2 linked regions of the Homo sapiens genome follow. The protein of the gene in region 1 interacts with the protein of each later gene in a pairwise test. Each region holds a gene or a part of one and is shown on either strand. Other genes may lie near its edges.

What was found. The genes of interacting proteins can lie anywhere in the genome.
Region 2: the proteins of RGS20 (region 1) and PTPMT1 interact in binary tests that used the Homo sapiens proteins (3 or more experiments, as listed by UniProt).

The regions. Positions count from the first base shown.
Region 1 is NC_000008.11:53,932,775-53,936,524, forward strand, and holds part of RGS20 (regulator of G-protein signaling 20), read left to right. Parts: intron 1-3,750. UniProt on the Homo sapiens protein: Inhibits signal transduction by increasing the GTPase activity of G protein alpha subunits thereby driving them into their inactive GDP-bound form.
Region 2 is NC_000011.10:47,563,844-47,567,593, reverse strand, and holds the start of PTPMT1 (phosphatidylglycerophosphatase and protein-tyrosine phosphatase 1), read right to left. Parts: upstream 1,996-3,750; 5' UTR 1,972-1,995; coding exon 1,798-1,971; coding exon of another isoform or gene 1,689-1,797; coding exon 1,608-1,688; intron 1-1,607. UniProt on the Homo sapiens protein: Lipid phosphatase which dephosphorylates phosphatidylglycerophosphate (PGP) to phosphatidylglycerol (PG).

The DNA.
Region 1 (3,750 bases):
AGGGACAGACTGCCTCCTCAGGTGGGTCCCTGACCCCTGTGCCTCCTGACTGGGAGACACCTCCCAGCAGGGGTCGACAGACACCTCATACAGGAGCGCTCCAACTGGCCTCTGGTGGGTGCCCCTCTGGGATGAAGCTTCCAGAGGAAGGAACAGGCAGCTGTTCTGCAGCCTTTGCTAGTGATACCCTGGCAAACAGGGTCTGGCATGGACCTCCAGCAAACTCCAGCAGACCTGCAGCAGAGGGGCCTGTTAGAAGGAAAGCTAACAAACGAAAGGAATAGCATCAACATCAACAAAAAGGACGTCCACACAGAAACCCCATCCAAAGATCACCAACATCAAAAACCAAAGGTAGATAAATCCATGAAGATGAGGAAAAACCAGTGCAAAAAGGCTGAAAATTGCAAAAACCAGAATGTCTCTTCTACTCCAAAGGATCACAACTCGTTGCCAGCAAGGGAACAAAACTGGACAGAGAATGAGTTTGACGCATTGACAGAAGGAGGCTTCAGAAGGTAGGTAATAAACTCCTCTGAGCTAAAGGAGCATGTTCTAACCCAATGAAAGGAAGCTAAGAACCTTGAAAAAAGATTAGAGGAATTGCTATCTAGAATAACCATTTTAGAGAAGAATATAAATGACCTGATGTAGCTGAAAAACACAGCACAAGAACTTCCTGAAGCATACACAAGTATCAATAGCCGAATTGATCAAGTGGAAGAAAGGATATCAGAGATTGAAGATCAACTTAATGAAATAAAGTGTGAAGACAAGATTAGAGAAAAATGAATGAAAAGGAATGAACAAAGCCTCCAAGAAATATGGGACTATGAGAAAGACCAAATCTACATTTGATTGGTGTACCTGAAAGTGACGGGGAGAATGGAACCAAGTTGGAAAACACTCTTCAGGATATTATCTGGGAGAACTTCCCCAACCTAGCAAGAGAGGCCAACGTTCAAACTCAGGAAATACAGAGAACACCACGAAGATATTCCTCGTAGAGAGCAACCCAAGACTCATAATCATCAGATTCACCAAGGTTGAAATGAAGGAAAAAATGTTAAGGGCAGCCAGAGAGAAAGGTCGGGTTACCCACAAAGGGAAGCCCATCAGACTAACAGCACATCTCTCTGCAGAAACCCTACAAGCCAGAAGAGAGTGGGGTCCAATATTCAACATTCTTAAAGAAAAGAATTTTCAACCCAGAATTTTATATCCAGCCAAACTATGCTTCATAAGCAAAGGAGAAATGAAATCCTTTACAGACAAGCAAATGCTGAGAGATTTTGTCACCACCAGGCCTGCCCTACAAGAGCTCCTGAAGGACGTACTACACACGGAAAGGAAAAACCGGCATCAGCCACTACAAAAATGTACCAAATTGTAAAGACCATCAACACTATGAAGAAACTGCATCAACTAATGGGCAAAATAACCAGCTAGCATCATAATGACAGGATCAAATTCACACATAACAATATTAAGCTTAAATGTAAACAGGCTAAATGCCCCAATTAAAAGATGCAGACTGGCAGATTGGCTAAAGGTCAAGACCCAACAGTGTGCTGTATTTAGGAGACCCATCTCACGTGCAGAGACACACATAGACTCAAAATAAAGGCATGGAGGAATATTTACAAGCAAATGGAAAGCAAAAAGAAGCAAGCGTTGCAATCCTAGTCTCTGATAAAACAGACTTTAAACCAACAATGATCAAAAAAGACAAAGAAGGGCATCATTACATAATGGTAAAGGGATCAACACAACAAGAAGAGATAACTATCCTAAACATATATGCACCCAATAAAGGAGCATCCATATTCATAAAGCAAGTTCTTAGAGACCTACAAAGAGACGTAGACTCCCACACAATAATAGTTGGAGACTTTTACACCCCACTGTCAATATTAGACAGATTAACGAGACAGAAAATTAACAAGGATATTCAGGACTTGAACTCAGCTCTGGACCAAGCAGACCTAATAGACATCTACAGAACTCTCAACCCCATACCAACAGAATATACAGTCTTCTCAGCACCACATCACATTTATTCTAAAATTGACCACATAATTGAAAGTAAAACACTCCTCGGCAAACGCAAAAGAACAGAAATCACAACAAACAGTCTCTCAGGCCACAGTGCAATCAAATTAGAACTCAGGAATAAGAAACTCACTCAAAACCGCACAACTGCATGGAAACTGAACAACCTGCTCTTGAATGACTACTGAGTAAATAATGAAATTAAGGCAAAAATAAATAAGTTTTTTGAAACCAATGAGAACAAAGACACAACCTACCAGTATCTCTGGGACACAGCTAAAGCAGCGTTTAGAGGGAAATTTATAGCACTAAATGCCCAAAGGAGAAAGCAGGAAAAATCTAGAATTGACACCCTAACATCACAATTAAAGAACTAGAGAAGTGAGAGCAAACAAATTCAAAAGCCAGCAGAAGACAACAGATAACTAAGATCAGAGCAGAACTGAAGGAGGACACCAAAAAATCCTTCAAAAAATCAATGAATCAAGGAGCTGGTTTTTGAAAAGATCAACAAAATAGCTAGACCACTAGCCAGACTAATAAAGAAGAAAAGACAGGAGAATCAAATAGACACAATAAAAAATTATAAAGCAGATATCACCACTGATCCCACAGAAATACAAACTACCATCAGAGAATATTATAAACACCTCTACACAAATAAACTAGAAAATCTAGAAGAAACAGATAAATTCCTGGACACATACACCCTCCCAAGACTAAATCAGGAAGAAGTCAAATCCCTGAATAGAACAATAACAAGTTCTAAAATTGAGGCAGTAATTAATAGCCTACCAACCAAAAAAAGGCCCAGGACCAGACAGATTCACAGCCTAATTCTACCAGAGGTACAAAGAGGAGCTGGTACCATTCCAAACAATAGAAACAATAGAAAAAGAGGGACTCCTCCCTAACTCATTTTGAGTCCAGCATTATCCTGATACCAAAACCTGCCAGAGACACAACAAAAAAAGAAAATTTCAGGCCAATATCCCTGATGAACATCAATGCGAACATCCTCAATAAAATACTGGCAAACCGAATCCAGCAGCACATCAAAAAGCTTATCCACCACCATCAAGTCGGCTTCATCCCTGGGATGCAAGGCTGGTTCAACATATGCAAATCAATAAACATAATCCATCACATAAACAGAACCAATGACGAAAACCACATGATTATCTCAATAGATGCAGAAAAGGCCTTCAATAAAATTCAACACCCTTTCATGCTAAAAACTCTCAATAAACTAGGTATTGATGGAATGTATCTCAAAATAACAAGACCTATTTATGACACACCCACAACCAATATCATGTTGAATGGACAAAAGCTGGAAGCATTCCCTTTGAAAACTGGCACAAGACAAGAATGCCGTCTCTTACCACTCCTATTCAACATAGTATTGGAAGTTCTGGCCAGGGCAATCAGGCAAGAGAAAGAAATAAATGGTATCCAAATAGGAAGAGAGAGAGTCAAATTATCTCTGTTTGCAGATGACATGATTGTATATTTAGAAAACCTCATCATCTCAGCCCAAAATCTCCTTAAGCTGATAAGCAACTTCAGCAAAGTCTCAGGATACAAAATCAATGTGCAAAAATCACAAGCATTCCTATACACCAAGAACAGACAAAAAGAGAGCCAAATCATGAGTGAACTCCGATTCACAATTGCTTCAAAGAGAATAAAATACCT
Region 2 (3,750 bases), on another chromosome or scaffold:
GTGAGACTCCATCTCAAAAAAAAAAAAAAAAAAAGAAAAGAAATAGAAATAAGGTCTCTGGCAACTGGGCAAACTTTATGCTTTAAGACTTCAGATATGCTCCAGCTACTCTTGTTATTAACCTCTTAATAATGAGTATCAGAGACTTTATGGTTCTAAATGAAGATCAGTAATTCTTTTTTTTTTTTGAGACGGAGACTCACTCTGTCGCCCAGGCTGGCGTGCAGTGGTGCAATCTCGGCCCACTGCAACTTCTGCCTCCCGGGTTCAAGCGATTCTCCTGCCTCAGCCTCCCAAGTAGCTAGGATTACAGGCGCCTGCCACCACGCCCGGCTAATTTTTTTGTGTGATTTTAGTACAGACGGGGTTTCACCATTTTGGCCAGGCTGATCTCAAACTCCTGACCTCAGGTGATCCACCCACCTCAGCCTCCCAAAGTGCTGGGATTACAGGTGTGAGAGCCACCACGCCTGGCCAAGTCACAAATATTTTCAAGGTTTCAAAAAAATCCTCAGGTTGAAATAATAGTATCTTCATCATGCTATATCAGTAAAACAAATGAGAAAGATAATTGTTTAGTGCTATTAGATGCCAAACGCTATAAAGATAGGGCAACATTAAAAAAAAATCAAATAGCTCAGATTGTAGATAACATCTTCTAATAACCATTGTGGAAGATTCCACAAACAGGCCAGTCACATTTAATGAAAGTTATGTTTTAGGCCTAAACTTTGTTATGAGAGAACTTTGGAGTTCCACCATGATTTCTAATATATGACTAAAAATTCCCCCAAATCAGAGCCAAATGAACTCTACAGTTTTCAATGGATAGTTTTATGAAAAATCTGGGGAGGGGAGAGTGTTAAGGGGGTGCTTTTCGTCTTACAGTTGGCAGGGCCTTCATCTGGAATCCCTAACACTGGGAATGCTGACCCATACTCAGAGCTCAAAGTATAGAAAGAATGAATGAAATCAGGAAGGCATGGGAAAGTTGCCTTTCAATTTTAGTTTCTGATTTTGGTTACCGAAATAAGAATACATTACATTTGTTCACAAAGGAGAAATCAGGCTTTGTCAACTTCCACTTTTTTTTTTTTTTTTTTTGAGACATTGTTTCACTCCTGTCGCCCAAGGCTGGGCTGGAATGCAATGGCGAGATGTCGGCTCACTGCAACCTCCACCTCCCGGGCTAAAGTGATTCTCCTGCCTTAGCCTCCCAAGTAGCTGGGAGTACAGGCGCACGCCACCACTCCCGGCTACTTTTTGTATTTTTGTAGGGACGGGGGCCTCGCCATGTTGCCCAGGCTGGTCAGGAACTCCTGGGCTCAAGTGATCTGCCCGCCTCCTCCTCCCGCCTCCCAAAGTGCTGGGATTACAGGCGTGAGTCCCCGCGCCCGGCCCAACTTGAACTTTTAAATAAACGCCTTTCACAGCTTCTAGCCTACCTCCAGGTGCCATTTAGAGGCACAGACCGGAGGCAAAGCAGCTTGAGACACCTGGCTCCGGTGCATGGTGACCTCCCCCACACTTCTCTAGCCGTCCCAGGCTCAGGGCGGTGGGCGAGGGGGAGCGGGCCCCCGAGCCTGCCCCTCGGCCCGGTCCCTCACCTGTGAAGAGTTGCACAGGAACCTCGTCTCGTACTCCTCGTTCATGGTGATCACCCCGCGCACGTTCTCGTCCTGTACCAGCTGCCGAGGCAAAGAGGTGGCTCAGCAAAGACGGTGGAGACCCCAGCGGCCCGACAGGGACGGAGCGGCGGGGACGGGGCAGGGGCCCGGGCTCCCCGGCCCGGCTCACCTGGCGCGTCAAGCTCCGCAACGGCAGCGCGCCCAGCAGCACGGTGGGGTCGATGCGGTGGTACCAGTCCCGGTGCGCCCGACCCGGCACCTTCCCGCGGAACAGGGTGTAGAGCAGCGTCGGGTAGAAGAGCACCCGCGCCAGGCCGGCCTCCAGCAGCGCGGTGGCCGCCATCCCGGCCCGGCGCAGCGGCGACCCGTCGGCCCCCGCGCTCGCGGTCCGGACCCGCGAGAAGAGCAGGCGGGTGCCGGGGCGGGGCTGCCAGCTGCACTAGGCCTCTCGCGGGCTCGCACCGGGTGACGGCGGGGACTGGCCTGGACTCTGGGGGACTGGCGGGACTCTGGAGGAGGGCCCGGCGGCCTCGGAGGAGGGACCGAGGTTTCCTGGGCGGGAAACTGGGACCCCGGCGAAGGGAGAGCGCGTCGCAGGCCAGACACGTGTGAGCCCTGTAGCGTGGGAAACTGAGGCCCCCGCCTGTGGCCGGTGACCTCCCTCCTCCGAGGGAGGGGGGTTGTGACCCCAGGTGAGAGGGGCAGGAAGGACCCCTGCGTGTGGAACTGTGACTCCGGCCGAGGGAGGAGGGGACACTCCCCCCAACCCTCGACCAGAGGAAGGGGGCAGTGACCCAGGTGCGGGTGTGACCCCGCCAAAGGGAAGACAAGACAAGGAGAGGCTGTGTGGCGGGGTAGCCCTGAAGAGGACAGTGGAAGGGCTTAGAGCTTTCAAACAGAGGAGCTACCTGGGTGAGGGCCTGATCCCAGGGTGAACAGGGGTCCTGGGTTGAGGTCGCCTTCCTCCTCCCCTCCCCTGTCCTAGGGCAGGGCTCCCTCCTTCATCTGACCAAACAGCAGTGTTTACATAGCAGGAAAAAATAGGAAAATATACATTATATTAATATATCCTTAAGAAAAATATTATGAAGAGCTCAAATATAAAACCTGCAACCTACAAAAAGGTAAGAAGAATGGTTGTAATGCCAGCTATTTACTTTTTGTTTGTTTGTTTTGAGACGGAGTCTCACTCTGTTGCCCAGGCTAGAGGGCAGTCGCAAGATCTCAGCTCACTGCAACCTCCGCCTCCCGGGTTCAAACGATTCTCCTGCCTCAGCCTCCTGAGTAGCTGGGATTACAGGTGCATGCCACCACACCCAGCTAACTTTTGTTTTTAGTAGAGACGAGGTTTCACCTTGTCAGCCAGGCTGGTCTCGAACCTAAGGTGATCCGCCCACCTCAGCCTCCCAAAGTGCTGGCATTACAGGCATGAGCCACTGCACCCGGCCCAAGCATCTGGTGGAGTTTTTGTTTTTTGTTTTTTGTTTTTGAGACAGAGTTTCACTATTGTCACCCAAGCTGCAGTGCAATGGCGTGATCTCAGCACACTGCAACCTCTGCCTCCCAGGTTCAAGCAATTCTCCTGCCTCAGCCTCCCGAGTAGCTGGGATTACAGGTACATGTCACCACGCCCAGCTAAGTTTTGTATTTTTAGTGAGATGGCTTCAACATGTTGACCAGGCTGGTCTCAAACTCCTGACCTCAGGTGATCCATCCCCCTGGCCTCCCAAAGTGCCAGGATTACAGGCATGAGCCACCGCGCCCGGCTTTCTTTTTTTTTTTTTTTTTTTTTTTGTATTTTTAGTAGAGATGGGGTTTCACCATGTTGGCCAGGCTAGTCTTGAACTCCTGACCTATGGTGATCTGCCAGCCTCAGCCTCCCAAAGTGTTGGGATTACAGGCATGAGCCACACGCCCGGCCCAAGCATCTGGTGGAGATTTTGTTTGTTTGTTTGTTTTTAAGATAGAGTTTCACTCTTGTCACCCAAGCTGGAGTGCAATGGCGTGATCTCAGCTCACTGCAACCTCTGCCTCCCAGGTTCAAGCAATTCTCCTGCCTCAGCCTCCCGAGTAGCTGCCACCACGCCCAGCTAAGTTTTGTATTTTTAGTAGAGACAGGGTT